Linked DNA regions of Homo sapiens. The protein of the gene in region 4 purifies or fractionates together with the protein of the main gene of each other region. This does not show direct contact. Each region holds a gene or a part of one and is shown on either strand. Other genes may lie near its edges.

What was found.
Region 1: the proteins of ING2 (region 4) and BRMS1L purify together in Homo sapiens (affinity purification with mass spectrometry; 3 studies listed by BioGRID and IntAct, with this or other methods). This does not show direct contact.
Region 2: the proteins of ING2 (region 4) and ARID4A purify together in Homo sapiens (affinity purification with mass spectrometry; 3 studies listed by BioGRID and IntAct, with this or other methods). This does not show direct contact.
Region 3: the proteins of ING2 (region 4) and SAP130 purify together in Homo sapiens (affinity purification with mass spectrometry; 3 studies listed by BioGRID and IntAct, with this or other methods). This does not show direct contact.

What each region holds. Positions count from the first base shown.
Region 1 is NC_000014.9:35,864,335-35,871,355, forward strand, and holds part of BRMS1L (breast cancer metastasis-suppressor 1-like protein), read left to right. Parts: intron 1-600; coding exon 601-665; intron 666-1,387; coding exon 1,388-1,427; intron 1,428-3,550; coding exon of another isoform or gene 3,551-3,571; coding exon 3,572-3,698; intron 3,699-6,025; coding exon 6,026-6,143; 3' UTR 6,144-7,021. UniProt on the Homo sapiens protein: Involved in the histone deacetylase (HDAC1)-dependent transcriptional repression activity. When overexpressed in lung cancer cell line that lacks p53/TP53 expression, inhibits cell growth.
Region 2 is NC_000014.9:58,364,537-58,371,557, forward strand, and holds part of ARID4A (AT-rich interactive domain-containing protein 4A), read left to right. Parts: coding exon 1-764; intron 765-981; coding exon 982-1,086; intron 1,087-1,487; coding exon 1,488-1,694; intron 1,695-2,346; coding exon 2,347-2,493; intron 2,494-5,486; exon of another isoform or gene 5,487-5,544; intron 5,545-7,021.
Region 3 is NC_000002.12:128,025,058-128,033,055, forward strand, and holds the start of SAP130 (histone deacetylase complex subunit SAP130), read right to left. Parts: upstream 3,003-7,998; 5' UTR 2,883-3,002; intron 2,250-2,882; exon of another isoform or gene 2,107-2,249; coding exon of another isoform or gene 2,035-2,106; intron 1,242-2,034; coding exon of another isoform or gene 1,236-1,241; coding exon 1,124-1,235; intron 1-1,123. UniProt on the Homo sapiens protein: Acts as a transcriptional repressor. May function in the assembly and/or enzymatic activity of the mSin3A corepressor complex or in mediating interactions between the complex and other regulatory complexes.
Region 4 is NC_000004.12:183,500,166-183,508,070, forward strand, and holds the start of ING2 (inhibitor of growth protein 2), read left to right. Parts: upstream 1-4,892; 5' UTR 4,893-5,030; coding exon 5,031-5,202; intron 5,203-5,932; exon of another isoform or gene 5,933-6,101; coding exon of another isoform or gene 6,102-6,153; intron 6,154-6,685; exon of another isoform or gene 6,686-6,845; coding exon of another isoform or gene 6,846-6,852; intron 6,853-7,905. UniProt on the Homo sapiens protein: Seems to be involved in p53/TP53 activation and p53/TP53-dependent apoptotic pathways, probably by enhancing acetylation of p53/TP53. Component of a mSin3A-like corepressor complex, which is probably involved in deacetylation of nucleosomal histones.

The DNA.
Region 1 (7,021 bases), on a different chromosome or scaffold from region 4:
CACCTTAGCCTCAACCTCTCGGGCTCAGGTGATCCTCCCACCTTAGCCTCCCAAGTAGCTGGGACTACAGGCACGTGCCACTCGCCTGGCTAATTTTTGTATTTTTTGTAGAGATGGGGTTTTGCCGTGTTGCCCAGGCTGGTCTTGAACTCCTGGGCTTAAGCCTGCATTGGCCTCCCAAAGTGCTAGGATTGCAGGCATGAGCCACTGTGCCTAGCCTCGTATACTTTTTAAAAACATTTTTAAATGTTTCCAAAATTGGAGTGTAAATTAATACGTATATTCAGTTTCGGCATTCTCTATGGTACCATCCCTCTACCCCCATCTTTTCCCCTCCACCTTAAAAACCAGTGATTGTGTTAGTGATGTATATTACAATCAATGATATCATGGAATTAAGGGCATGTAGTTATGACATCAGAAGTACTAGACTGTATTTATGCTGGTACTAAGTGGTTTGAAGAATAATTTGAAGTCAGAATTTAGGATGCCAAAGCATTATGCTCATAAATCATCGTTCCATTTTCTGAAATGTAGTACTTTGGAAATATAATTCAAAGTGTGATATTCTTACAGCTAAATTGACCTTGACTATTCAACGTCCATATATAGTTTATATGCTACAAGATCTTGATATTCTTGAAGACTGGACAACAATTAGGAAGGTATGATTAATGAGCAGTGGAACACAAGTATGTTTTTATAGTCTACTTTTTAAGATTCTATGTTTTTTTTGTTAGTACATCAAAATATTATTGTAAATATGCTTTGCTTTTGCAACATTTTTCTAAGGCAATTTAATACTATTACAGATAGCAGTGAACTACAAGGATATTTTAAGAGTTAGAGACATGTCAGCAGTTTGATTGTATTTTTTCTATAATAATGTAACTAATAATTTATGGAAAAGTCCAAAAAACATTTATTTAGTCTGCCCAAAAATAATAACATCACCATCTGTGCCTAGTCCTTTGGCTGGTCCTGGCTTATAGAAAACACTTGATAAATATTTGTTGAACAAAAGAACATTTGAACCCTTATGTGTCTTGCATCCTATCATTAAACATTCAAGAATCATAGGCTTTTCTTTTCTTGCCTGAAAGTGGAGGCTTGTTTTCCATATTACATTTTTTCATTTTTGTAAATTTCTTAGTTGAGAATTAGAGATTATTTCAGGTATTGAAAACACCTCTAGGAGAAATTGTTATCCCTCATATTCTTTATGGTCTTAGACATTAAAAATTTGTTAGAGCAGCTAATGGTTATACTTTACTGTCTTTGTTATGGAGTTAATCGGTAATATTGTATATATTAAATAGATACCAAAATATATTTTCAGTCTGAACTCAGACTTCTTTCTTCCTCTTTTTTTTTTTTTTTAATTAAGGCAATGGCTACATTGGGGCCACACAGAGTGAAAACGGAACGTAAGTCATTTAGTCTGAGTTGGGAAATATTCTCTTTGGAGACTTGTTGAATCAGGGTTGTTATCTACGTACTAAAGAACTCTTGAATCAGTGGTTTTATTTCATCAGTGAACACCGTGCCTGAAATTATGAGGAATTCTTCTGGAGTCATTGCTTCACGTAAAAGTTTCAAAATTTCTGAATGTGGTATAATTATTTCAGTGTTCAGCTACATTCTTATTGCTAATAATGGATCAGTAACTCAAAAAAGTATTTATGCAGTGTTTTTTATGGGCTCTGTCATTCTATAGGGGAGGTATTTGGAATTTGTGGATTGGCTTCAGAGATTCTGTGAATCCTCTGAAATTATGTGCAAAATTCTGCATGTGCATTTTCTGAGGAGAGAGATCAGAATGCTGATATGCCTTAGTAAAATTCATATCAAGTTACACTTCCTTGATTTTTTTTTTGGAAGTCTAAAATCACTGCCAAAATGTGATGGTGTTTAGGATAAGTTTCTCTGTTTCTGCCTTCTTTCACTATAGGTGAGATTTCCTAATCCTTCTAAGGACAATGAAGCTAGACTAAAAAGAAAAACATATTTGAAATACTTAGGAAAGGAATTTCTAGTCACATTTAAACAGCTTAAGTAATCGATAAGAGACCAATTTCTGTTTAGGCTGGGCATGGTGGCTCATGCCTAGCATGATCCCAGCAATTTGGGACGCTAAGGCAGGAGGATCACTTGAGCCCAGGAGTTTGAGATCTGCCTGGGCAAGATGGCAAGACCCCATCTCTACAAAAAAATACAAAAATTAGCCAGGCTTGGCGGTGTGTACTTGTAGTCTCAGCCTCTTGGGAGGCTGAGGTGGGAGGATCACCTGAGCCCTGGAGGTCGAGGCTCCAGTGAGCCATGATCACACCACTACACTGGGCAACAGAGCAGGATTCCATCTCTAAGAAAAAAAAAATTGCATTTTATTTTTAACCCCATGATTCCTTTAAACTTTTTATTTTGTGAGGAAATTGCAGCAGTATTTGCCCTGGGGAATTAACTGCCAGAGCAGCTGCCTAGACCTGTAGAGCAGTGGTTCTTAACATTTTTGGGTAATAGATTCCTTTTGAGAATCTCATTATCATAGTTGAGTGTGTCTCCCTCCCACTCTTATCTTCAGCATTGTATCCTATTAGTTTTACTCATAGCACTTCACTCAATTTGTACTTTTTAATTTTGTCTATCTCCTGACTGGATTGTAAGCTCCACAAAGGCTAGAACCATATCTCTTTTGGTCACAGTTTTTTCCCCAGCATACTTCCTTGTGTATAGGAAGTGTTCAGACAACATTTGTTGAATGAATGAATGAATGAATGAATGAATATACCCGATGGTATTTTAGGCCCTGAGAATACAATGGTAAAAGAAATATGGATCTCCTGGAGCCTCTTTAGGGGAGGTGGAATCATATATATGTAGATAAACAGTTAAGAAGATAGTTACAGATTATAATAATTACTCTAAAAGAACTGTGCAGTTGATATAACAATTAGCTGAGGAGTGGGTAGAGTAGTTAGGGAAGACCTCTCAGGAGCTGACATTTGAATGACTTCATGGTATGCTTTTGACACTGTGTTTCCATAAAAAAGATTTTTTTTTCCTGTATGAGTTATCTGACTAATGCCAGATGATTTCTGGAATTTAAAAATAGAAGTTGTACTTAGGACATTTCCTTTTTAGAATTAAAAGCCTGGGGAATGCTTGGAACATGTATTAAACTCTGCTTCTTTCGGTATATCAGATGCCCGCAGGGGAAAAAATAAAAAGTATAATTTTCAATTGAAATATGGCAATTGATATTTTAAATACTACTTAAAATTCACACTAGTAATTGATAACATACCTGCTTCCCCTTCTGGTACTTAATTAGTCAATTGATGATTTATTGTTCATTGTTTAGCTTTGTTTAGTAGTTATATTAAAAACTTAGTGATTATGTAAAAGAATGTAAGGAATAAATCTTTTTATTACATTTTAGGTTTGTTATTTAAGAAATATTTTTAGGCCTTTTTTACATATGCATGGATTGATGTTAATTGTTAATGTTCTGACCCTTTGTTCTTCTGACAGTGTTTTATTAATATAACAGTTTTTGAACTGATCCCTTTAGCACCTGTGAAACTGGAAAAACATCTGCACAGTGCTAGATCTGAAGAGGGAAGACTATATTATGATGGTGAATGGTATATACGTGGACAAACAATATGTATTGATAAAAAAGATGAATGTCCTACAAGGTAAAAAAGCCTTTGTTATTTCAGTGTTGCTCAGTATTGTCATTTACAACATCGTTGTCAGTGAAATATTTCCTGCCTCCATAGTGTGCCTATATCATTAGTTGCTTGTGGATCCTTTTTTCACTTGACATATGGCTTGATTACATGTGTGTACAGCAGTGTTAATATGTATGAACCAGACTTCATATTAAGTTTATGAACACAAACTTTAATGCAAGTAGAAATGTTGAAATTATTTAGCCAGGTAGCTGATCCTGTTTCTTAATTCTTTTAGTAGGTGAATCGTTAGGATCGTGCTATAATGACCCTTAAACCTGACTATTATGAATTTTTGGTGGACCTAATAATCTTTAACTTTTTTGGATGTGTTACAATATTTTAGATAAAAAGAATTTGTATCAATTAGAGTAGGAAATAAATGGAAAATTAATAAAACCCTTAAGATTAATAGTAATTAAAGTATAATCTAGGGCTGGGTGCAGTGGCTGACATCTGTAATTCCAGCACTTTGGGAAGCTGAGGCAGGATTGGGTGAGGCCAGGAGTTCAAGACTAGCTTGGACAACTTGGCAAGACCCTGTCTCTACAAAAAATAAAAAAATTAGCCAGGTGTGGAGGTGTGTGCTTATAGTCCTAGCTGCTTGGGCAGGAGGATCGCTTGAGCCCAAGAGTTTGAGGCTGCAGCAAGGTATCATTTCACCACACCATTGTACTCCAGGCTGGGCAACAGAGTGAGACCTTGTCTCTCTAACAACAACAACAACAAACAACAACAACAACACAGTGTAACTTGAAAACTGCCTTTTAAAAGTCCTAGTAATATGTCTAGGCTTAAATAAAGTTTATATAACTATTTGTATAGCCTTCTAAGTTTTATCTGGTTGTGACCTTTTGAAAATATTGTTAATCATCTTTCATTCTCCAGTAGTGTAGGATTTAATTCTCAGAGTAGTAAACTTCTGTGGTAACAAAATATGGTTTTGTAGGTGTCAGTGGTAAATAAAACAACTTGAGTTTAGTCTACAGTATGCATTTTCCAAATACAGTGGTTTTAATTGTAAGATAATTTTGTCTTTAAATTTTTAGGATTCCAGGAACATTGTGTATAATAACTTTTCTTATAGAAGCTCATTGAACTACTAGTTTATATATGATACTCCTGGATTCTTCTGTTTATGTTATTGTTTTTGAGATATTTTACTACTACTTAGCATAAAAGTTGTTTAAAAAGAGATGAGGCCAGGTACAATAGATCTTTCCTGTAGTAATTCCAGTACTTGGGAAGGCCAAGGCAGGAGAATCACTTGAGCCAAGGAGTTTGAGACCAGCCCTAGCTGGTCTCTTTGTAGAGAACCCCATCTCTACAAAGTAAAAAAATTATCCTTAGTCCCAACTACTCAGGTTGAGATGAGAAGATCACTTGAGCCTGAGAGGTTGAGCCCTGATTGTGGCCCTGCATTTTAACCTGGGTGACAGAGAAACCCAGTCTCAAAAAAAAAAAATTCCTATTCACTCTTTAAAAAATAAATAATTAGGCCGGGTGCAGTGGCTCACACCTGTAATCCCAACACTTTGGGAAGTCGAGGAGGGTGGATCACAAGGTCGGGAGTTCAAGACCAGCCTGGCCAATATTGTGAAACCCCGTCTCTAGTAAAAATACAAAAATTAGCCAGGCATGGTGGCACGTGCTTGTAGTCTCAGCTACTTGGGAGACTGAGGCAGGAGAATCACTTGAACCGGGGAGGTGGAGATTGCAGTGAACTGAGATTGCGCCACTGCATTCCAGCCTCGGCGACAGAGTGAGACTCTGTCTCAAAATAAATAAACAAAAAATAAATAATTAAAAAAAGAATAAAATACAAATCTATTTAAAGAATAGATCTTTTTATGTAAAGATTAGTAGTGTAAAAAAAATTGGTATAAGTACCGTAGATGGTTTGACATTAGGAATTAGAGATTAGCATTTGAAAGATACTGACATGAGTTACAAGTATAATACCATATACATAGCGCTTTTAGCTCCAGTTTTTTTTTTTTTTTTTAAAGAGGTGGGGTGGGGATGGAGTAGGAAGAATGTGCTTTTAATAGTTCTAATAGAAAGTAAATTTTACGAACTCTATTAAGAAAAGAAGGATGATCTGCTGTGTTGCTGAATGTGATATTTTTGGCAGCATGTACTGCTGATATGCAGCATTCTGGTAAATGACAATTATATACCTGAGTCTACTGTTGTAGGCCAGTTTATTTTGGTTTTATATAGGTAATAATCTAAAGTGAATTGAGGAGACATTGTAATTCATTCATTCATTCTTTTTTTTTTCTTTTTAGTGCTGTAATTACAACAATTAACCATGATGAAGTTTGGTTTAAGAGGCCTGATGGAAGCAAATCTAAGCTTTACATTTCACAGCTACAGAAAGGAAAATATTCAATTAAACATTCATAATCATGATTTAAGTGTTATCTAAATTTACCTTATTAGTGTTACCAAATGTAAGTGCCATGAGAGTAAAAAAATGTATTCAATAACTTAATATTCTCACTGAATCATGAGAGAATGTGTATTTGTAGGTAGTACTCTAAATAGATCTCATTGATATGTTATTAAAAGAAACAGTAATAAAAATTTTATCACGATCCTTACGTTGATTTGCCTCTTAGGTCCGATGACCAATAGGTATTCTGTATATGGTAGGGGTTTCTTTCTAAACATTTTTCTTTGGTTTTAAAAAAAGTTATGCAAATTTGTCTTATCTTTAGTAAACTATGACTACATTTATCTGCAATTTTTAAAATTTTCCATATCTTTGTCATTCATTGTGTGTTTGTAAATAAGGCCGATAGAATGTTTCCTATAAATGGTTTGTACTAGTACATTAGTGTTAAACCAGAACTGAAATTTAAACATATATATATATGAGGATGTATATATGGCATCATCAGCTTATTTAGAACTGATGGCCATACCTTACAATCTTGTTTTACCCAAAATTAAGCTATTGGGGTTGAAAGCTAAAAGGAGCACTTTTGTAGAATAGCAACTTTTCTTTTCCTCTTTCTTGATTGTATGGTGGGGTGGTGACCTATTTTTACAAATTATACCTAATGAGTAAAATTAGTGTAAAGTGATAACATGCTTCTACCTGTATTTCTAGTGACCCTTTAGCGGCAGGTATTTATACCTGGTATTTATGATGCAGTATATAAGTGGTGAACAATAACTGACAGTATTGTGCTTGCTGTACATGTCTGGTCTTTTGAAACAGATTTTAGTAAGCATTTTCCAGAGGTAAAACTGTGTCCTTATTCTAATTTTATTCCTAG
Region 2 (7,021 bases), on a different chromosome or scaffold from region 4:
AGCAGGAAGTGAACCTCATATAGAAGCTCATAGTCTTGAATTGTCTTCATTAGACAATAAAAACTTTTCTTCTGCTACAGAAGATGAAATTGACCAATGTGTGAAAGAAAAGAAGTTGAAACGGAAAATACTAGGACAATCATCGCCAGAGAAAAAAATAAGAATTGAGAATGGAATGGAAATGACAAATACTGTATCTCAAGAAAGGACCAGTGATTGTATTGGATCTGAGGGAATGAAAAACTTAAATTTTGAACAGCACTTTGAAAGAGAAAATGAAGGAATGCCATCATTGATAGCAGAGTCAAACCAATGCATCCAACAACTGACTAGTGAAAGATTTGATAGTCCAGCTGAAGAAACTGTAAATATTCCACTAAAAGAAGATGAGGATGCAATGCCTCTGATCGGGCCTGAAACCTTGGTTTGCCATGAAGTAGATTTGGATGATTTGGATGAAAAGGATAAGACCAGCATTGAGGATGTAGCAGTTGAAAGCTCTGAGTCTAACTCTCTTGTTTCTATTCCACCTGCCCTACCTCCTGTAGTCCAACATAACTTTTCAGTAGCTTCACCACTTACTCTTAGTCAAGATGAGTCTCGAAGCGTAAAAAGTGAGAGTGATATAACGATTGAAGTTGATAGTATTGCTGAAGAATCTCAAGAAGGTCTCTGTGAGAGGGAATCGGCAAATGGATTTGAAACTAATGTTGCCTCTGGTACCTGTAGTATAATTGTACAAGAGAGAGAGAGCAGAGAGAAGGGTAAGGACTTTCTAGGGAAAAGTAAGTGTTTATATGAAACCAAAAATCAAAACTGTTGAGTTTCAGGTACTGTTGATCTGTAAAGTACTTTCTTTTTCTTTTCTCTCTTCTTTTCTTATTAAAAAGAAAGAAATGTCAGTGTAGTCTGTTGAATAATATACTTGCTCTTTTTTTTTTTTTTTTTTTTTTCAACATTCTCTCTTTCCCCTTATTTCAGGTCAGAAGAGGCCAAGTGATGGAAATAGTGGATTAATGGCAAAAAAGCAAAAGCGTACCCCAAAGCGAACAAGTGCTGCAGCCAAAAATGAAAAGAATGGAACAGGTTGGTGTCTTTCAATGCTAGCTTTTGTATAGTGTTAGTATTTTTAGCAGTTTGTTGGCTTGTTTTAAACATAAATGGAGCAATACTATATTGTTTTATAACTGCATTTTCATTTAACAGTATTATACTAGATATTTTGCCATTTTTATTCTTAGGAACTCTAGCTCATTCTTTTTAACAACTTTAGGAAAGTATTCAATAGTTTATCATTTTTAACCATTTCCCCGTTGGTGAGCATTTAGGTTTTTTTGTTTTTTTGTTGTTTTTATATTGTTATAAACTTTGTGCATTTGTGCACTTATTTCTGTAGGATACCAAGAAATGTAATTGTTAGGTCTGTTGCATTTTGATATTTAAGAATTTTATTTATAATCTGAGTCAATCTTTTTTATTATTTATAGGACAAAGCAGTGATAGTGAAGATCTTCCTGTCCTAGACAATTCAAGTAAATGTACCCCAGTAAAGCATCTTAATGTATCTAAGCCACAGAAACTTGCACGATCTCCTGCAAGAATATCCCCGCACATCAAAGATGGAGAGAAAGATAAACACAGAGAAAAACATCCGAATTCATCCCCTAGGACATATAAATGGAGCTTTCAGCTCAGTAAGAAGCTTATAGAAAACTTGATAGATGAATACTGTAAAGTGGAATAGATCTTAAAATATCAACTTGGATTAATGTTAATAAAATAAGGAATAATGATTAACTATTTAGATATTCCAAATATTGCCTTAGCAAGAATCACCACATGTTGTCTTAAGTATAAATCTGTGTCTTTTCATAAAACTGACTTGATAAATATTGACTTACAGGAAGGTCTCCATTAAGAAGCCATGTATGATTTATATAAATCAGTGAAATTGAAGTGCCCTTTGTAGCACTAACAATTAGAAATAGCCAGTAGTTATTTCTATTATGTAACTAGTAGTAGTGAAGAAAATGTCAATACAGGGAAACTATTCTGATAACTATAATTATAGATAGGTCAGGGTTAGTTTGTGTTGATGTTTTCTTATGTTTTTCTGATCATTTAAGTAATAAATGTTTAGTATAGAAAATTTGGGATCTAAAAATAATTCTTAATCATGAATTTAATTCACGACTTCCTTGTTTTCAGTCTTATTCAGCTTACTGTAGGAGATTTTAATAAACTAAAGCTTTTGTTGATTTATGAGTTAGACGTTTGATAGAATTGTCATCATTTTTCTCACAGAATTATTTTAAAATCCAAATTAACTTCTTTCCCCCCTTTTAGATGAATTAGATAATATGAACAGTACAGAGAGAATCTCATTTCTCCAAGAAAAACTACAGGAAATCAGAAAATATTATATGTCTTTGAAGTCTGAAGTTGCAACCATAGACAGGAGGAGAAAAAGATTAAAAAAGAAAGACAGGGAAGGTAATTTTATTATGATTTTTCTCCCCTTATATTTCAAAACTATATCCTATCATTTTAGAAGATTTAAATTTGATACTCTTTGAATATAGTACACATTCATTAATTGCTGTTTTTAAATTCCTAGTGTTTTCTATTGTTGAAATGAGTAGGTCAGCAACTGAGTTAATCAGAATGACACCCTTAAAAGGGAGTATGAACTGTTTTCCAAAATGGGTGATTGTACTAAATGTGATGGATTCTCAGGTAGAGCATAGTCCTTCTGAAATTCACTCTTTGCTCAAACATTTATTGGCATCTATTAACAGGCACTGTATTTGTTATGGGGTTCACCAAAATGAATGAGACATAAGGCTTATTCTCAAGGAGATTATCTTGTTGGGATTATAAATCATTTCCTAAGCAACTAAAATATAAGATAGTGCAGCTCAGCAACTTTAAAGAGCACATGCCATGTGCCAGGCACTCTGCCAGGTGGCGGAAGTACAGAAATGAGTTAGATACAGACTTTCTTCTCAAAGATCTTAACATCTAGTGGAACAGTGTGTACCCTGAGAATGATATTAACGAGTACAAGAGTTAGTGGAAGGAGAGGTTACTTTGGAGTAGTCAGAGAGAGGGAGTAGTGTCTGAGCTAGCCCTTCGGGGGTTGTAGGATTGACTTCCAGTTAAACATGAACATGTCCATCTACAGTCCATCCCTAAGCCCTGCTAAAATAACAGTAAAGGAAATTAAAAGCCCTAAACTCAAAAGGACAAGAGAATGACCACAACAGACAAGAAATGTCAACAGTATATCTTTTGGAAGCTGCATAACAGATGGACTACTGTAACTGTCCCAGCAGATGAGATAATGCTGAAACTAAGCTTGCTTGTCCTTGTAGTGGGACAAAACAACAAGAAGCAAGCCAATTAATACCATGTAACCCCAGAAAAGCTTTCAGAAGGGATATGGGACGATGCTGAAAAATGGGATTGGTTGAAAATGGAAAGAGAAATTGGATCTCTTCTTCCCATCTGTGAAGCAAGTCTACCTCACCCCCAACTCAAGCAGAAAATAGATTAACTTAAAAGAGAATGAGGAAATCAGTAGGCCTGTAGACTTGGGGGCACCAGCCACAGCTGAGGGTAATGATTAAGTGCTAAACCAAAATAATGGATGGAGTGAAAGTTTGCATACTGAATAGTTAGATTGCTGTCCCTCTTCTAACTCAAGGCCTAATCCTCTTGGCTTCCTGAAAGCTGGCAGCCAAGCTTATGCTTATTCCTGGGAGGAGATTGGAAGATTCTTCTAAAGAAAATGACCAGCCCAAGAAAAATTACCTACTATTTGGATGTTCCTGAAACAAAAATCAAGATCCTTGCCAATCACTACATGTGCATTTTCTGTATTTAAAAGCCCTGATGCTCATATACAGCTTTCAGTCAGCTTTTTAATGTTAAATATGGAAGCCACATGACCAGACATTTGAGGAAAGCCCCTACATAAAGGCAGAAGCCAAAGTAGAAAAAGGAGAATAAAAAGGAACTGGAAGAAAAAAAACAGATAATGTACCATATTAAAAAAAAAATAGGACAAAACTATTCTTAATAGTTAATCCAAGTTGAGTATCCTTTATTTGAAATGCTTGGGTCTAGAAGTGTTTGGGTTTTTTATTTTTTTCAGATTTTGGAATATTTGTACATAATGAAATATCTTGGTGATGGGACCCAAGTCTAAACACAAAATTCATTTATGTTTCATAGACACTTTATACACATAGCCTGAAGGTAATTTTATATAAATAATTTTGTGCATGAAACAAAGTTTGTGGTAAGTGCTTATGTGTGGAATTTTCCACTTGTGGCACCACGTTGGTGCTCAAAAGTTTCAGATTTTGGATTTTTGGATTAGGGATGTTCAATTTGTATCCAGAGATAAAGGGAAAGAGATTGCCACCTTGAAACAAAAGCATAATAACTATTTTAAAAATTCAGAGAACAAGAAGGATATCTTTAAAATATGATAGCAGGAATTTAAAAAAAATAATAAGGCAGTGAAGCTGAAGAAATTCCACTAGAGGGTCAAAAAGACAATAGGAGAGAAGAAATAAGAGAAATATGGAATCTGGCGAGGAGATCCAACTTCTGAATCATAGGATTTCTAGAAGGAGAGTTGAATAAACAAGAGGAAGTTGTCATCAAAGATATTTTTAAAATTCTAGAACTGAAGGATATGAGTTAGAAAAGGACTCACTGTGCCCTCTATAAATAATGGGGGTGAAAATCACCAAAGCATATGAAATTTCAGAATCCTGTGGATAAAGAGTAGATTCTAGGCCTGGCACAGCGGCTCACGCCTGTAATCCCAGCATTTTGGGAGGCAGAGGCAGGCAGATCACTGGAGGCCAGGAGTTTAAGACCAACCTGGCCAACATGACAAAACCCTGTCTCTACTAAAACTACAAAAGTCAGCTGCGCATGGTGGCAGATGCCTGTAATCCCAGCCACTCAGGAGGCTGAGGCTTGAGGATCACTTGAACCCGGAAGTGAGCACCGAGATCGCGCCAGTGCACTCCAGCCTGGGTGACAGAGTGAGAGTCTGTCTCAAAAAAAAAAAAAAAAAAGTAGATTCTAAAAATTTACCATATAAAGATACATATATAAAAAGAAATGGATCTCAGAACAGCATCAAGAGTCTTACATCCGATTTCTCAATGGTAGTACTAGAAACTAGAAGCCAAGCTAAGAAGACATGGGACTGGCAAACAAGGAATCCTACATAGGAAAATAGTGAAGGAATATCTGAAGGTGATGGTGAATGGAAGCTCTAGGATGACCACTGCATAGCAGACCTAGAAAGCAACTATTCCAGGAGTAGGATGGAACAGGAGGGGAAAGCTCCAGAAGGGATGTCTCTTAAAAACCAAATAAAAGGTAAATTACCTGATAGGGTTGATCATGTTGAGAGAAGTTTTCTGCCTCTAGTAGAGATTTAGTGGATGACTTTGTGGTAGAGTGACGTGTCATGTGTGGCCTTGACCATTGTGCTCCAAGTCCAGCAGTTTTTAATTCCTAGAAATAGGAACAGGATGGAGCAAATGGAAAGAGATCAGACTTCTCATGTTCATCCTTTTCTTTTAAAAACTGTAAATAGCAAGAAGTCTTTACAGAACTTTTGAATATCAAAAGAAGAAAAGAACAAATTAGCAAATTAAAATTTCTTCAAAGAACCCACCACTTGCTCTGGGGTCAGTTTCCTAAAGGTGACATACATTTCAGACAATTAAAAAGATTTTCTTTTTGTTGAGACAGAGTTTCACTCTTGTTGCCCAGGCTGGAGTGCAATGGCACAGTCTTGGCTCACTGCAGCCTCCGCCTCCCGGGTTCAAGCCATTTTCCTGCCTCAGCCTCCCGGGTAGCTGGGATTACAGGTGCCCGCCACCATGCCTGGCTAATTTTTGTATTTTTAGTAGAGATAGGGTTTCACCATGTTGACCAGGCTGGTCTCCAACTCCTGATCCCAAGTAATCTGCCCACCTCGTCCTCCCAAAGTGCTGGAATTACAGGCATGAGCCACAGCGCCCAGCCAAAAAGATTTTTTTATTACCGTCTTTTTTGTTGTTGGGGGGTACAGGCTCTGGCACCCAGACTGGAGTGCAGTGGCATGATCACGGCTTACTGCAGCCTCAGACTCTTGGGCTCAAGCGACTCCCACCTCAGCCTCCCGAGTAGCTGGTACCACAGTGCCTGCCACCACACCCAGCTAATTTTTTAGTTTTTTTTGTAGAGGCATATTCTCACTATGTGGCTCAGGCTGGTCTGGAACCCCTGTTCTAAAGCAATCCTTTTGCTTTGGCCTCCCAAAGTGCTGAGATTATAGGCATGAGCCAACATGCCCAGCTTATTATAGTCTTTTCCCCATTTTTATTTGCTTATGTTTTTATAATGAGTTATTAAATTGAGATTTGAGTGATTTGTAGCATACATGTAAGAATTTGTTGCCTGGGCATGGGGCTCACGCTTATAATTCCAGCACTTTGGGAGGCTGGAGCAGGAAGATCACTTGAGTCCAGGTGTTTGAGACCAGCCTGGGCAACGTAGTGAAATCCCATCTCTACAAAAAATTTAAAAATTAGCTGGGTACAGTGGCATGTCTTAGCTACTTGGAAGGCTGAGGCAGGAGGGTCGCTTGAGCCCCAGAGGTTGTCATGATACTTGAATAAACAAAAATTAAAATTTTAAATAAAATAGGAACAATCAGGCAAAGAAAGGCAGAAGACAAGAGTATTGCAAGGAAAGAGAAGATAAAAGCAAAGAACTTAAAAAGTGGCAAAACACCTAATGCTCAGAGTACCGATCCCTAATCTGTGTTATGTCCTCCTGGAGAAAATTATGTTAAAACCATTTGAGGACTTTTTGCTTATCACACATCATTACTTTGATCCTGATCTCCATGATTCTGATACCTGTCAGAGGAAATCCTCTGAGTTAAATTAATTCTCTTACGGTCCTATGACCCATAGATAAAGCAGAAATTCCATATGGTTCC
Region 3 (7,998 bases), on a different chromosome or scaffold from region 4:
GTATCATTTACCATAAGGAACACCAGAATCCAGTGGTGAAGAAAAAGGAATAGAAAAGCATTTATTTCACTTTGCAATGTCATATATTTACTTAATACATAGAGAAAAAGAGTATTTGAAGGAATTCCTCAACTTCAGCACTGCTGACTGGACTGGATACTTCTCTGTTGTGGGGGGCTTCCCATTACCTTGCAGGATGTTAAGCAGTATCCCTGGCCTCTACCTATCAGATGCCAATAGTACTCTTTAGTTGTGACAACCAAACTGTCTTTAGATATTGCCAAGTACTCCCCTGGAGGAAAAATCACCTCCCCAAACACCTGTCACTGAGAACCACTAATTTCTACCACTCAAAGGGTATAAGACTAAAAACCAAGTTTTATCTATGTGTATACAATCAGCCCTCTGTATCCATGGGTTCCCTGATGTGAATTCAACCAACTTTGGATGTTAAATATTCAGGGGGGGAAAAAAACCCTGCTTGCATCTGTACTAAGCACATACAGACTTTTTTCTCTTGTCATTATTCCCTTAGCAATACAGTATAACAACTATTTACATACCATTTACATTGTAGGAGGTATTACAAGTAATCTAGAGATGATTTAAAATATACTGGAGGATAGGTATAGGTAATATGCAAACACTATACCATTTTACATCAGAAAGTGGAGCATCATGGATTTTGGTATCTAAGGTGGGTCCTGGAAACAATCCCCCACAGACACCATAGGGAAACCGCATATCCTTTGTTTTCCACTTCTTTTCCTAGATAATAAACCCCTAAAAGACAAGATCTGTTCCTTAAACACCTCTGGGCTCCCTCACAGCACTAATGCTATACTCCTGGACATTAATTAAACAAGAATATATTAATGCATTTCAAAAACAGTTCTTACAGGCACGCTTTGCTATAAGTTGCATGTGTACTCTATGTGAATGAAGTGGTTAAAACAGGAAGGAAAAAAAGCCTTGTTTAAATTAGAATAGTAATATACCCTTTCTTCAAATTCAAGAAACAAGAATTTACTAAAATCCTAGAAGAATCTGCTAATTTTTAAGTTAGAAAACTGGTAATATTCTTAAAGTAGGAAAAAATATATTAGAATATTACATATCTCACCTGTAGCAGCTGGGTTTATCAATCCAGCAGAACCACTGTTTGCAATCTGAGAAGGGGCCTGGCTCAGCCCGGTAGAAGGGGCTCCTAACCGAGGAAACTGTTGAGAACTCATTTCCACCTGTAGTACATACAGTTATATGGTTATTACTAGATTCTGAGATCTGAATCAATACTGAGAAATTAAAGCATCTTTAGTACCTATGAGATAGTCCCTTGGAAAAGCAAATGCTGCATCATTTATTTAAAAACAATAACTTGGGATCAATATAAATGCAGACATTATCTAAACTACCTAAGTTTTCTACAAATATTGTTTATACGGAGCTGGCGGGTACTATGACCCTCCATAAATACTTGTGGATTGCTATGCTAAAAAAATCACCATTGAATCCTGTACAAGAGTCACATGACAGGTATTACCACAATGCATGTGTATTTCTCTGTGTAAAGTTTTATGGAAAATGGCATGTCTCTTTGAAACACTCAAATCTCACACCAAGGTGAACAGAACTGTGATTAGTATGTCATAGGAACATTCGGAGGAAGATATCCAGCCCTAAGAAAAGATCCGATATCTTACATCCAGACCCGATGCAAAAGGAATTCTCCAATGCTTTTCGGCAAAGGCCTCCATTTACGGATTTCCTTTTCCTTCTCTTCCACAGATCCCCTCACAGAGCCAGAGGACCCTACACCTTCTCCATCTTCCCTAAAATCGCCCCCCACTTTTCCCTCAGGAGCCAAGCGATCTCCCGATTCGCCCGCAACCCCACCCCACCGCGAAGCCCCCGCTGAGACCGGAGGACGCCGGTTTCCAGACACCTCGGAGTGTGAGACCCCCGTCTCCGGGGTGGGGGTGCGGACGGGCGATCTGGGGACCCGACCACAAGACGAGCACTGTGCCTCTTTACCTGTAGCCGCCGCCCGCCGCCCGCACCGCCCGCTTCTATCTCGCCGGCCTGGGGGTGCCGCGGAGGGCCCATCTCGGCGGCGGCGATGTGCTCGGCGGGCGCGGGGAGGGATCGCGGCGGCGGCGCCCGGGGCCCGCTGCTGTCCAGCCCCGCTGGCCCCACTCACCCCCGCCACCCGGCCGCCGCTGTGCTCGCAGTCCTCTTCCCCCGAACCTGCCCCTGCCTCCCCCGCCCGCCCATTGGCCCCACGCCCGACGCGTCAGTGGAGGCCCAGGACCAATCCACAGCGACCTGCACGTTCAGAGCCCGCCCCACCCTCCCGCCGACTGCCAGCCAATCAGGCGCGAGCCTGGCCGGGGCAGCCCAAACCCCTCGAGGCTGAGCCAATGGCAGAGGAAGACAGGCGCCCCCGGCGAAGGGGGCGGGGAGCGGGGAGGCCCCGCCTCAGCCAGGGTCTGAAAGCGGCGGGCGCAGGGCCCGGATGTGGAGAGTCACTTTAAACTGCTCCAGGAGCCAAACTCCCTGGGCCGGCCGCCCGCCCGCCCGCCCGCCCGCGCTCCCCCGGCCGCTCTGCTTCCCCGCCAAGGCCCACGTCCGCCACGCCCCCACGCCCGGGTCAGCCCACCCCTCCCGGTGCCTCTCCCTTCCTCGCCACAGGACACCCAGCCCCTGTCGCCGGCCCAACCGCCGTGACCAGCTCGCGAAAGAGCCGCGGTCCGAGCCGCAGGAGACGAGGATCCTCTGCCCTTCCCCGGGGACGCGCAACGGGACGGACGCTGCAGCCCGGCTCAGCCGCCCCGCCCCCTCGTCTCCTCCCCTTCCCTCCCGGGCGCCCGTCCCGCCATTACCTGGGTGCTGCGCCCAGTGGCCGCCGCGCCGCCTTGAGCTCGCTCCCGCGCGCTCTCCGTCTGTGGGGCCGACGTCCCCAGGCTCCGGACCCGCAGCCACCGCCGGGGAGCTAGCACTCTGCCCCCCACCCCTCACTCCAGCGCCGCTGCTTCCGCCGCCGTAACGAGCCTCCCGTCTATTGGCTGGCGCAGGCCCCGCCCCCTGCCGAGTCAGCCAGTCGCCGGTGGTCGTGAGCGGGAGAGCGGACGGGCCCGCCCCTCTGAGCCGCGGCGTCCTGTGGGAAATGTAGTCGCCGGAGTCAGGAGGGCGGGCCGCGAAGGAGGTGGAGAGCGCCGGGGCGGGGCCGCAGGCGACCCGGCCAGGGCAACACACCCCTTTGCTGTCTGAAGTCGGTTCTGCCTTTTCTCTTGGCTAAGTGAGAAGACAGTGGATCCCACCCTATGCCTTAACCTGAGGGCACTGGGTTTCATTTTCCCCGCGGGGAGGCGCGGCGCGGGAAAGGGTAATGGAGGCCAACTGCGGCGGCCAAGGGATCCGCGGGCCGGGCCAGTGTCGTGACGGTGCCCGCCTCCCTATGCCGCGAGTGGGACTCGGTGTCCCCACCGGGAACCGCGGTCGGCACAGCCTACGCGCGGCGGGAGCCGCCAGGCGCAGCGCGGGCGCGGCTCTGTGAAAGCAGGCCGGCAGGGCGCAGGGCTCTGGGCGGCCGGGGCGCACCTGCGCGCGCTTTCCGGATTATAAAGGAGCTGAAGGGGGCAGTTTTATTTTGTCATTTTGCTTGGGGTTCAGGGTTGGAGTTTATGCACCTGTAGAAGACTTAGCCATATCTTTTGAGGCCACATTTGTGTCTGATAAGAGATTAAGTCTCCCTCTTCCCTTACCAGATGGTAATTTAGGCCTGGAGTTTTGTGATTAGTTAGGAAATAAATGGGGCTCAAACCCCCCTCTTCCTATCATGCACAGCTGTGTAAGACAACTGCTTGGTTAGAAGAGAGTAGCTCCTGGCTATAGCCCAGGGATGAGTCTCAGATACTCCTCCTCTTCAAGCCACTTTCCTTTTCCACCTTCATGCCTTCATTCTCAAACTTCTAAAGAGTGACTCCTGTGATAGACTTCAGCCTCCTCTCTGCCTAGGCAGTCCTTATCCCTTTTGGAGTTGCCACTCTTCTCAGACTGCTCCCCAAAAGTTGCCAACACCTACTCAACTTCAAACCCATCGGTCCTCACTTAGATCTCATCTTGTTTAGCTTACTGACCAGTAGTAATTCCTCCTCATGTCTTCCCTTGGCCTCTAGAACCAGGCTGTCTCCTGCTTCTACTCCTATGTCAAGCTCCATTATACCTCCTCTTTCTCATAAATACAGCATTCTTCAGGGCTCCAACACGCTAATGCTATACTGCCTTCCTAAATGGTTTAATGTATTTCCACAGTTTCAAATGTCATCCTTTTTGTTTTTTGTTTTTTTGAGACAGGTTCTCAGTTCAGCCCAAGCTGAAGTCCAGTGGCGTGATCACAGCTCATTGCAGCCTCGACTTCCTTGTCTCAACTAACTTATTGCCTCAGCCTCCTGAGTAGCCAGGACTGCAGGCGCATGCCACCACACCCCACTAAACATATATATATGCCAGGCACGTGGCTCATGCCTGTAATCCCAGCACTTTGGGAGGCCGAGGCAGGCGAATCACCTGAGGTCAGGAGTTCGAGACCAGCCTGACCAACATGGGAAAGACCCCATCTCTACTAAAGATACAAAATTAGCCGGGAATGGTGGCAAATTCCTGTAATCCCAGCTACTCAGGAGGCTAAGGCAGGAAAATTGCTTGAACCCGGGAGGCAGAAGTTGCTGTGAGCCCAGATCAAGCCATTGCACTCCAGCCTGGGCAACAAGAGCGAAACTCTGTCTCAAAAATATATATTTATATATGAATACATATATTTTATATATATAATATATATTTTTGAGATGGAGTTGTATGTATATATATGTATATATGTATATATATGTATATATACGTGTGTGTGTGTGTGTGTGTGTGTGTGTGTATATATATATTTTTTTTTTTTTGAATAGAGACAGGGTTCCACCATATGCCCAGGCTGGTCTTGAACTCCTGGGCTTAAGCGATCTGCCCACCTCAGCCTCCCAATGTGCTGGCATTATAGGCATGAGCCACTACACCCAGCCTCAAATATCTTTGAAAATGTTACCTATGCATAGGTGACCTCTCCGAGTTGTATACCTATATTTCCGCCTGATGGGCCAATCCACACAGAAGTCTTAACAAGCCCCTCAAAGTTAATGTATTGAACACCTTTATTGGTTTGCCTCCCCTGTGTACTCCCCTTGATACCTGGGTTTACTTACTGGCATCACCATCCTTTCTGTCTTCAGCTTCATATATGTTCCACACTCTTCCATCTCCCACAGCCGCCATATTACATTGATATGCACCTCTGCCTCCTTTTCTATTGTTTCCATAGCTGTGGCTCAAGCTGCCATTATTTCTTATCTGAATTGCAGCAATGCTGCTGCCCCCACTGAAATCTCTTCCTACACCCACTATGTCCTCCAGAATTCTTTTTCTAAATCACTAATCTGGATCTATCCTTCCCATCCACGATGTTTCCATATCTTCGGAATATATTCCAAATCCCTATGCCCATTATCCAAAGGCCTTAATAATTTAGTCTCTCCTGCCTCTCCAGACACTGGATACTCTGCCAACAACAGTTTCTACTAGTTATCTGCGCAGTTTGGCTTCCAGCATTTTGCTCTGGCCTGAAGTGCCTTCTAATAGGCTAGGATGCTCAGCAATCATCTAGAAGAGTTCTGCCAATTCTATAATGCCTAACCGGAAATAAAACTGTTTCTCTTCGGCAAGAAGCCTTCCTCCAATTCCTCTCTTTTCCCCACCCTCTAGAATATTTCCATAGAACTTCCTCAGTACCTCTCTTACAGCACTGATCTGTGTCTGCCCATATTCCTCCTGGAGTAGGCAAACAGAGAAATTATTTGTCTTTATATCTCCTGTCAACAGGGTTTTAGATCCAGGAAGCATTCAATAAATGTTTGCTAAATATAATCACAAACACATCGGCGTTACTATATGATTGAAATTGGAGTTTTCCTGAGTTACTTGGGACAGTAGCTATGGCTTTATTCATCCATGTCTCTGGTCCTGCACATAGTGGACACTTAAAGGAAAACAGGTGCTTCACCCATCTTTTATCACTAGGGTTTAGAATTCCCATCAACTGAACTTGGTGTGCAGAAAACACACCTTGTGCCCCAGCCAGACTGAACCTTCTACACTCCTCAAGTATTCAAGCCCTATGCCAGTTTCAGGAGCTTACTAGTATTTGAGGTTCTTGAAAATTGGCCAGGCGCGGTGGCTCACACCTGTAATCCCAGCACTTTGGGAGGCTAAGGCGGACAGATCACTTGAGGTCAGGAGTTCGAGACCAGCCTAGCCAACATGGTGAAACTCCATCTCTACTAAAAGTACAAAAAGTACAAAAATTAATCCCAGCTACATGGGAGGTTGAGGCAGGAGAATCATTTGAACTTGGGAGGTGGAGGTTGCAGTGAACCAAGGTTGCACCACTACACTGCAGCCTGGGCGACAAAGCAAGTCTCAAAAAATAAAAAAATTAAAAAAAAGTGTTGTCCACCCATGATCTTTTGAATAGATTAAGCAGATATACAATAGGCATCATATCTGCTCGGTGATTTTCTAGAGAAAAGCAGATTCTCCACGTGAGTGTTCTGTGGAAGTCAGTCAGATGTCAGCGAATGGTCCCTGAGACTTGGTGATGTGATTGAAACCACTTTTGCAAAATCGTGACAGTGAGAGATATCTAACATAGTTGACTCCATCCTACTTCTGACCTCCACGCTGTCTTTGGTTATTCCTGGGTATAGACTCAGCTATGTTTCACAATTTATAGTTTAACTTGAAAGCAAGGATGATAATAGTCCCTTTCTAAAACTAACCCCCTCCTTGCTTGGGGACCAAAACCACCTTTGTAAACCAACGAAAGACCACAAGAATAGGATTATGAGAGGGGCCTGAACTCTGCTAAAAAGTAGTCAGTTTCTATAATCCTTTACTGCTCAGGAGTCATGTGGCCAGAGGTCTCAGATTTATGACTTCCCCAGTTGCTCCTATAGATAACATCACTGTTGTAAAGATTTTTTTTTGAGATATCTTTCATACTGATCCGATCTGAACTCGTGACTCATGGCTCTACTGGTCCTGTGGCCCTACCTAGAGGCAGACTCAGCACACGAGGAATGTCTTCCACACCCCTATGGTTTCATCCCCAACCAATCAGTAGCACTCATTCCCTATCCCCCTGCTTACCAAATTGTTCATAAAAACCCTAAGCTCTGAGCCTTCAGGGAGACTGGTTTGAGTGATAACTCTAATTCTTCCCTGTTGCCCACCTCCTGTCAATTAAACACTTTCTCTGCTGCAATGCCACGGTCTCAGTGGATTGATTTTGTCTGTACAGTGGACAGGAAGAACCCACTGGGTGATCCAACACTTTGTTGCATTTTTTTCTCTTAAAGAAATTTTTTTTTAAGAATTCCAGGGCAAACTGGTGGTAGTAGCCTGCAACTTTTTATTGAATAGTACTGCTCCTTGTGGAGCAGGGCTAACTCATAGGCAGTATGCCCAGTCAGCCAGGTAATTACACTTTGGTGGGCCTCTTTACCATCGGACCCAGACGGTTCTCACTTAGTCACTGCGTGAGCAGTCTAACGATACTGACTCTCTGCAGTTGCCCTCTGTCCAAATACTCCCCTTGACTCAACCTCCCAGTCAAGGAAAGCCTAGTTTCTTCCAGGTCACTTGTGTAACATGAGCATAACCTTATTTATCTCCAGCTTGTTGTGTAGATTAAATGAGCCATACACATAAAGGATGTGTTGCTTTTGAGCTTGCCTGTATCCATCGTTTTTACAACTTCCATCTGTTTATTACCCTGGGCAAACTCAAGAATCTCTCTCTTCCTGGTATCACATTCTATACCACTGTCCCCACCCCAGCAGCACCTATGCCAGGTGTGGCAGGAGACTCTAGGATGGTCCCGCGTGATCTCTTCCCAGT
Region 4 (7,905 bases):
ATCCCAGTCATTCACACGGTCCCTTCGTTAAAACGTTTTAGGATCATATTTTGCTTTTAGTAGTCATCCTAAATGCTGAATAGTACTATAATCTAAAGCAGTAGGATTGACTGTATACACCAGTTAAATCTGTGCAGTCTAACACATAAACTCCAAGTACAGGGTGATATTGCTCAGATTTCTAATATTCCTTCTACAGAATCTGATATTTTCTTAACTTTGTCCTTTTTTTTTTTTTTTTTTTTTTTTAAATGAGACAGAGTTTTGCTCTTGCTGCCCAGGCTGGAGAGTGCAATGGCACCATCTTGGCTCACTGCAATCTCTGCCTTCCGGGTTCAAGCGATTCTCCTGTCTCAGCCTCTGAGTATCTGGGATTACAGGCACATGCCACCACGCCCGGCTAATTTTTGTATTTTTAGTAGAGATGGGGTTTCATCATATTGGTCAGGCTGGTCTCGAACTCCTGGCCTCAGGTGATCTGCCCACCTCGTGGCAAAGTGCTGGGATTACAGGCATGAGCCACCACACCTGGCCTAACTTTGTACTTCAATCCTAGCCAAAGTGTTTTCTTAAAGCAAAAGAACTGCTAAAATGGAATTACATCTTGGAGTATATTTAGATATTGAGAAGAGTTATCTCCAGTTTGTAGTGACTTTTATATATCTTTTTATTTCTATTTAAATTTTTTCTACAATAATGTGTATTACTTATGTAATAAAGTAATAAAAAATGCTTTAATGCTTTAAAACTGAGTTCAGTGGAGACGCACACCATTAGGTTTTGTTTTTTTTTTTTCTTTGAGACGGAGTCTCGCTTTGTCGCCCAGGCTGGAGTGCAGTGGCATGATCTCCGCTCACTGCAACCTCCGCCTCCCGGGTTCATGCCATTCTCCTGCCTCAGCCTCCCCAGTAGCTGGGACTACAGGTGCCCGCCACTACGCCCAGCTGATTTTTTGCATTTTTAGTAGAGACGGGGTTTCACCGTGTTAGCCAGGATGGTCTTGATCTCCTGACCTCGTGATCCGCCCGCCTCGGCCTCCCAAAGTGCTGGGATTACAGGACTATTAGGTTTTTCTTTAGTTGCTTTTTGTACTAATGAATTGATTTAAAGTTTTAGGGTTTTTCACTATAATTTAAGATGCTTCACTGGACCTTCTAGAACAAATTACACTCTAACACAGCCTCCTAGATTACTAAGGATTTATTTATTTGCATCAGGTACAATTACATTTCTTACAACACGCTATCAATTGGTGACTTTTCATATGAGGATTTCTTCTTGAATTTCTCCATATTTAAAGCAGTGATTTTAAACTACTTAAATATCTTCCTCAGAAAAACATTGCTCTCTGCTTCACTGAATTAAACAGGGAATTAACTGCCTCTTACTGGTTTGGAAAAGACCTCAGTAACCAAATAAAATGCATGGGATTTGCTGGATCCTGTTAAACCAAATGTGAAAGATTTACTGAGACAATAGGAAAATTTGAATTGTGTAGTTATTAAATGATAGTAAGAAAATTTGGGGAGGCAGAATACATGGTATTACGGATATGCTTAAAAAACTGTTATCTTGGCCAGGCATGGTGGCTCACGTCTGTAATCCCAGCACTTTGGCAGGCCAAGGCGGGCGGATCTCTGGAGGTCAGGAGTTCCACACCAGCTTTAACCAACATGGTGAAACCCCCTCTCTACTAAAAATACAAAAATTAGCTGGGCATGGTGACACATACCTGTAATCTCAGCTACTTGGGAGGCTGAAGCAGGAGAATCGCTTGAACCTGGGAGGCGGAGGTTGCAAAGAGCCAAGATCGCCCCATTGCACTCCAGCCTGGGCGACAAAAGCAAGTCTCAGTCTCAAAAACAAACAAACAAAAAACAACTATTATATTTTACCTATTCATATTATTCATATTTAAAGTATTTACAGATAAAATGATAAAAATCCAGCAAGAGTGAGGGAATGTGAAGGGCTATAGATTAAATAATCTTAGCCATATGTTGCTAAATGTTGAAGCTGGGTAGACGGTATATAAGGATTTATTGTAGTATTACTTTTGCCTTTGAAAATTTCCATAAAAGTTTAAAAATATTAAAAAGTAGAAAAAAGAAAAGGATTTCATTTATTTGATCTGACTCAAACAGAAGCTGAATTTTCTCAGCAGGCATCTTTAGGAATCTTTCACCATTACTTGCCAGTTTGTTTTCAACCAGTTTGAAGTTGTTGCTCTCCCCAAGAGACAGGTACGGAGGCGTACACATTTCCTGCCAGGGACCTCTTAAAGTCAGACTTAGAAATTCAAGGTAATCCCAGACTAATTTGGGGAGATCAGTTACTTATCTTTTTTTTAGGGTTGCTTTATGGTAGATAATACACTGTAGAGCAAATAAAATGCCTTTTTGCTTTATTCACAGGATTAAATACCATAAATTAATTTCTAGTTGCTGAGAACGGGAGATTTTAAATTTTGCATTTAGAAGACAAGAAATTCAATCTGAAGAGGCCCCATATTTCCAGTTAAGTGACCACTCAGAAGGGAAGGACAGCGCTCAATAACCAAGGTCAAGAGTTGGGTTTAGGGTTTGTGGCGATTTTTTTTGGGGGTGGCAAGAATAAGCCGTAGATTAATCTCTTAAAATAAATATAGCAAGAAAAGCATGCCTAAAATAATTCATACATATACATATATTATCATATTACAGTGTTTTACAGTTTTAGATCAGTACCAGCTAAAATATTCTTTGGATTGTTTTTGCTTTTTTACCAGCCTGTTCAACAGAATTATAAAAGGTGACAATAATGCTATAAATGTCTCCTATCCCATGCTCATCCCTCCTCTCATCTTGCTCTGTTTCTGGAGTACTCTAGGTATTCTGCATCTTTGCCTTTTTCCCCTTCTAGTTTCTAAACACATTTCTTATCTACTTGCAGATCACTTATCAGACTGAATAAAATCCATAGGTACATTCGGTGTCTGACCTGTAACAAGGCACCCCACATTATTTTGCGCCTTTGATAAAGACCAGCTTATTCAAACTTGTGAGAAAACAAAAATAGCAGGGTTCAAGTAAAAACCAGTAAAATTCAGTTCTTCACAGTGGCGGTTTTTTGACAAGACCCGGCCGAAAGATTTCACGAACAGTAAAATCCCAGAATGTTCTCAGAAATACTATCCACTGTACTGTCTGGGTTGCTTAATACTGGCCCAAACCTCAGTGTCCTAGGATAATAACCCAAGACAATTTCCCAGTCCTTTGAAATAGTTGACGTCCCAAGATGTCAAATTGCCTGGAGTGCTTTATTTTGGTTTGAAATTTAAAATTTCCTCTAGATAAAGATCTAGATTTCTCTTTGCAAGTCAAAGGCTAGTTACTATTAACAGCTGTTTCAAAAGTGCTCTAAATAGGTCACCATTCAGGTGTACCAACGCTGCAAACTGGATCTAAGAAGATCCAAATTTGTCACCACTCACTCACATTTTAACTCAAAGGTAGTACTCACAATTGGCCTTGTTTACATAGGCATTCCATTAAAATTATCCATGCATTCATTCTATTTGCACCCATTTCTTTCAAAAATGTCCATCTGTAATTAAAATCAGCTCCTCTGCCTGACATCTCATTTACACTACACCGAAATTAAACCCCACTAGGAGATCACGTAGATTATGGGGCCGAGGGCCCGCCCGCTGACTAGGTTTTCACTCGCGTCTCCTCCATGCCCCAGGTCCCCTCCGATTGCAGTCCTGGGGCAGGACTGAGCAAAAAGTCCCGTAAAGCTGGCGTGTGCCCCACTCCGCCAGGAAGCCTCACCGACGTCCTGTGCTTAAATGTTCTGACACCCCCCAAAAGCAGTTGTTTTTAAAGGCTGTCTGTGGGACCAATGCGTTGTCAAACAGATGCCGTCCCGCATCCCCTCCCCCTAAATGACACAGAAGATTCCAGCGTAGGGGAAGGGCCACGAAACCCGCAGGGCACACGACGCCGGGGGCCGGAGGGAGCACCGCCTACCTCCCTGATCAAGCCCCGCGGTGCCGGGCGAGCCCGAGGGCCCGGCAGGAGGCGGGCGGCAGCCCCAGGCGAGCTCGGAGGCGGCGGGAACGCAGCCGCCGCGCATGCCGGGAGCCGCACGCCGCCCGCCGGGGCGCGCAGTCCCGCAGGCCTCGCTCCAGGTCGTCCGAAAAGGAACCGCCTGCTGCTCCTTTGCAGGCTCGCGAGGAGCCGCACTCGGACCGCCTGATGGGGAAAAAGCCGGTGTGGCCGGGCGGAGCGAGCCGAGCGGAGCTGGAGCTGCCCCTCCCAGCGGGGAGGACGGCACGAAGGACCGAGCCGCCTCCCCTCCCGGGTCCCATTCAGACGCGAGGCGCAGAGACTGGCTCCCCGGGCTTCCCCTTTAAGGGGGGCGGGGCGCGGCCTGCCGTTTGGCCGCCCCCCACACCCTCCCCCGCTAGCCCAGAGCCGGCAGACCAATCGCCCGGGCGGCGGAGCGAAGGCGGGAGAATGCGAACCCTCCGGTAGGCGGTAGGGGCGGGCCCCGGCCTTATTCGCAGGGAGCGCTGCGCAGGCGCAGAGGCGGCCGCGGGCGGAGGGGCGGGGGCAGGCTAGCGGGAGGCTCTCCGTGAGGCACGGAGGGTGACTGGGGACAGGCGGGCGGCGACGGGCTTGTCATGGGGATCCGGGCTGCGAGACGGCACTCGTAGCATCTGGGGACTCCGAGGGGGACAGGAAGTGTCAGCGCCCGGGACCCCGGCGCCGGCCCCGCCGAGGGGATCCCCACTGCTCCGGTCCTGGAGCGGGAGGGGAGAAAGGAGGGAGCCCCGGTTTCGCCCCGCCCCTGGGCTGGTGCTGCGGGGGCGGGGAGTGAGGGCTGCTCTGGGGGGAGTGGAGATCGGGGAGCGCGGCCGTGCCCTCTCGAGCGGCTGCGGGGTCCCCGCGGCGCCGGGCTGCTGAGCTGAGGGCCCGCGGCGGCCGCGGCCGGTGCATGTGCGGCTGCTGGATGCGGAGGCGGCGGCGACGGCGCGGATCGGCAGGATGTTAGGGCAGCAGCAGCAGCAACTGTACTCGTCGGCCGCGCTCCTGACCGGGGAGCGGAGCCGGCTGCTCACCTGCTACGTGCAGGACTACCTTGAGTGCGTGGAGTCGCTGCCCCACGACATGCAGAGGAACGTGTCTGTGCTGCGAGAGCTGGACAACAAATATCAAGGTAGGAGCCGCGGGGCTGCCGGCCTCGGGAGCCGGTGGCGGGGAGCCTGTCCGGGGGAGTGCCACCTTCCCTTTCTCCCGTGACAGTCTCCCCGAGCGCACCGAGGGTCTGCCGAGCGGGACTGGGAGGACTGGAGACCGGGTTGGCGGCCCTCCGTGGCCCCGCGGTGGGCGAGTACTTCTCTGGGGTCCCCAGAGTGGGGGTGGGGGCCGCTTGTCAGCCCCCGCTGCAGACCCAGCGGCTGCAGCTGCCGCTGAGGGGAATCAGCCATTTTAAGCAGCAAGCATTTGTTCAGGCGCTGGCCCGCCCCGTGCCGCAGACCCTGCGGCCCCGGCCCGGGACTGCAGCCGGGCAAGGGTCGGAGGGAGTGAGCGGCCGGGCTCCCGCTGGTCTGCGGGGCGCGCTTCCCCACCTCACTCGCCCCCACCCCGGAGTGCGGGTGCTTTGGAACGTGCGGGGGGAGGGGGCGAGAGGCCGCGGAGGCGGACTGAGGGGGCCTTCCTCCGCGCTCCTGCCCCGGCCCGGAGGAGAGCAGTCCGTTCCGCTCTCTCGCCCCGGGAAAGTTCGCGGGCGCCCCGCGTTGTAGCCCTAGCCCAGTTCTTTCGGCAAAATGGTTAAGAGGGGAGGGGTCCCCCGCGGGAGAGGAAGAGAGGGGCGTGTGTGGCGGGGAGGGCCCCCGCGCCGGGGGCGGGGCCTGCGGGCTTGACGAGGGGCGTGGGAGGGGCGCGGCGCGCGTTCCCGCGGGCCTGGAAAATGGCTGGTCGCGAGAGGGGCGGTGGCGAGCTGGCTGCTGGGGAGGGAGTCGGGGCTGTGCGGGGGCGTTGGTTCGGCCCCAGCGGAGTCCGAATCGGGGTTTGCAGCATGTTTTGCGGTGATGTTTCCAACCTCTTTCCCAGTCAATGGATCAGGACGGCGATCAGCAGCTCGGACCGTCGCGGATCCTGGCTCCGCGTAGGTTCCGGGACATGTGTCACTTCCGGGCTTCAGGAGGAAGTGGGTTGGTTGACTGGGCAACCGCCTGGCGTCCCCGAGCCCCTCCTTCTCCGACTTTAAGTGTGGAGGCGAAACCACCCTTTGCCGGCCGACCCGGGAACCCGGGACAGAATCGACCTTCCTTACAGTGTTACCACCTACTATCGGTGGTGCTACTAGGAGGGCAGTTTAAAAGGGGAAATGTGTTGCGCTTAATAACCTTGAATCGAGGAACAGACCTTGAACATAGTATGGAAACAGCCATACGAACTTTAAAGATAATTTCCTGGACCCATTCTCTGTTTTTGTAGACACGCCAGTAATCCTATACTTTAAAAGTCTCTAAGGAATCCACTTCTTGGGTGACATAAGTGTCTGATGTTTTTTAGTTTATAAATTTGTTTCTGTTTTCTGAATCCATAGGATTCATAGGACTGATCCGTGTTTGGGGAGGGGGTGGGGAGGGAATTAAAACTGATGCGCTGGGTCCAGACCATTATATAAATATTTCTTTTACAGATTACAAAGAGTTCAAGTAACTCGTCCAGTTAATTCGATGTAGAATATTTGGCTCCAGAGCCTGCTACTGTAGATGCATATCTTTGTTTTCAAACAATTTAAGTTTTAATAAAAACTGTCCAAGGGGATTTCTACAGATATGGAGCACAAACATGAATGGTAACCTAAAAATGATACGTGCTTAATAATTGTATATGGAACCTTTCTAGTTTTTCAGATAACACCAAAGTTTGTAAAGCTTGTAGTTTGTGTTGTTGTTTTAGACAGAGCCTTGCTCTGTCCCCTAGGCTGGAGTGCAGTGGCTCGATCTTAGCTCCCTGCAACCTCTGCCTCCCGGGTTCAAGCGATTCTCCTGCCTCAGCCTCCCGAGTAGCTGGGATTACAGGCAACTGCCATCACGCCGGGCTAAGTTTTGTATTTTTAGTAGAGACGGAGTTTCACCATGTTGGCCAGGATGGTCTTGAACTCCTGACCTCAGGGGACCCGCCCGCCTCGGCCTCCGAAAGTGCTGGGATTACAGGCGTGAGCCACCGCGCCCAGCAAGCTTGCAGGTTTTTACATTTCTTTGAAGGCACATGTTTCCTTTCACAAGAGTTAAGCTATTTGAAGTTGGTGAGGGATACTATAATTTGTTGACAGGGAAATCTTTCGGATCATCTATAATTGTCAGGTATTAATAGCTCTGGTAACATTAGTAATATAGTAGGCCTTACAAGATTGAGAGATTATACAAATTCTTAGCTCTATGAAGTTTGTGATTAGTGATTAAAAACTCATCTAGTTTTCACTCTGCACGTGGTTACTGAGCTCAACTTTCACAGTTTTATGTTTATGTATATTTTGGGTTCAGATTTCATGTTTTTTATATCTTCACTAGTGCTTAAGTATTTTCTGGTTTTGGATCTAATATTTCTAGCAATATTTAGTGATATAAATTATATAGGCAGTCAAATTTCTTTCTAACCTACTTGAGACACTTTCAGAACTGCTGAAAAACTTATAAAATGAGAAATAAAGAAGAAAACAATTTCACAATTGAAGTACTTATTATGGGATAGGGTTATTAGAGAACCTTTATTTTTATTCTAGTGTTCCCACTCATAATTTCTTAGATAAATAACAACCTTCAAACTAAACTTTGATACTTAATTTCAAGTGCCTTTCATATAGTTTATAGAAAGTGCTTACACTGCGAGGTCAGACATACAGATC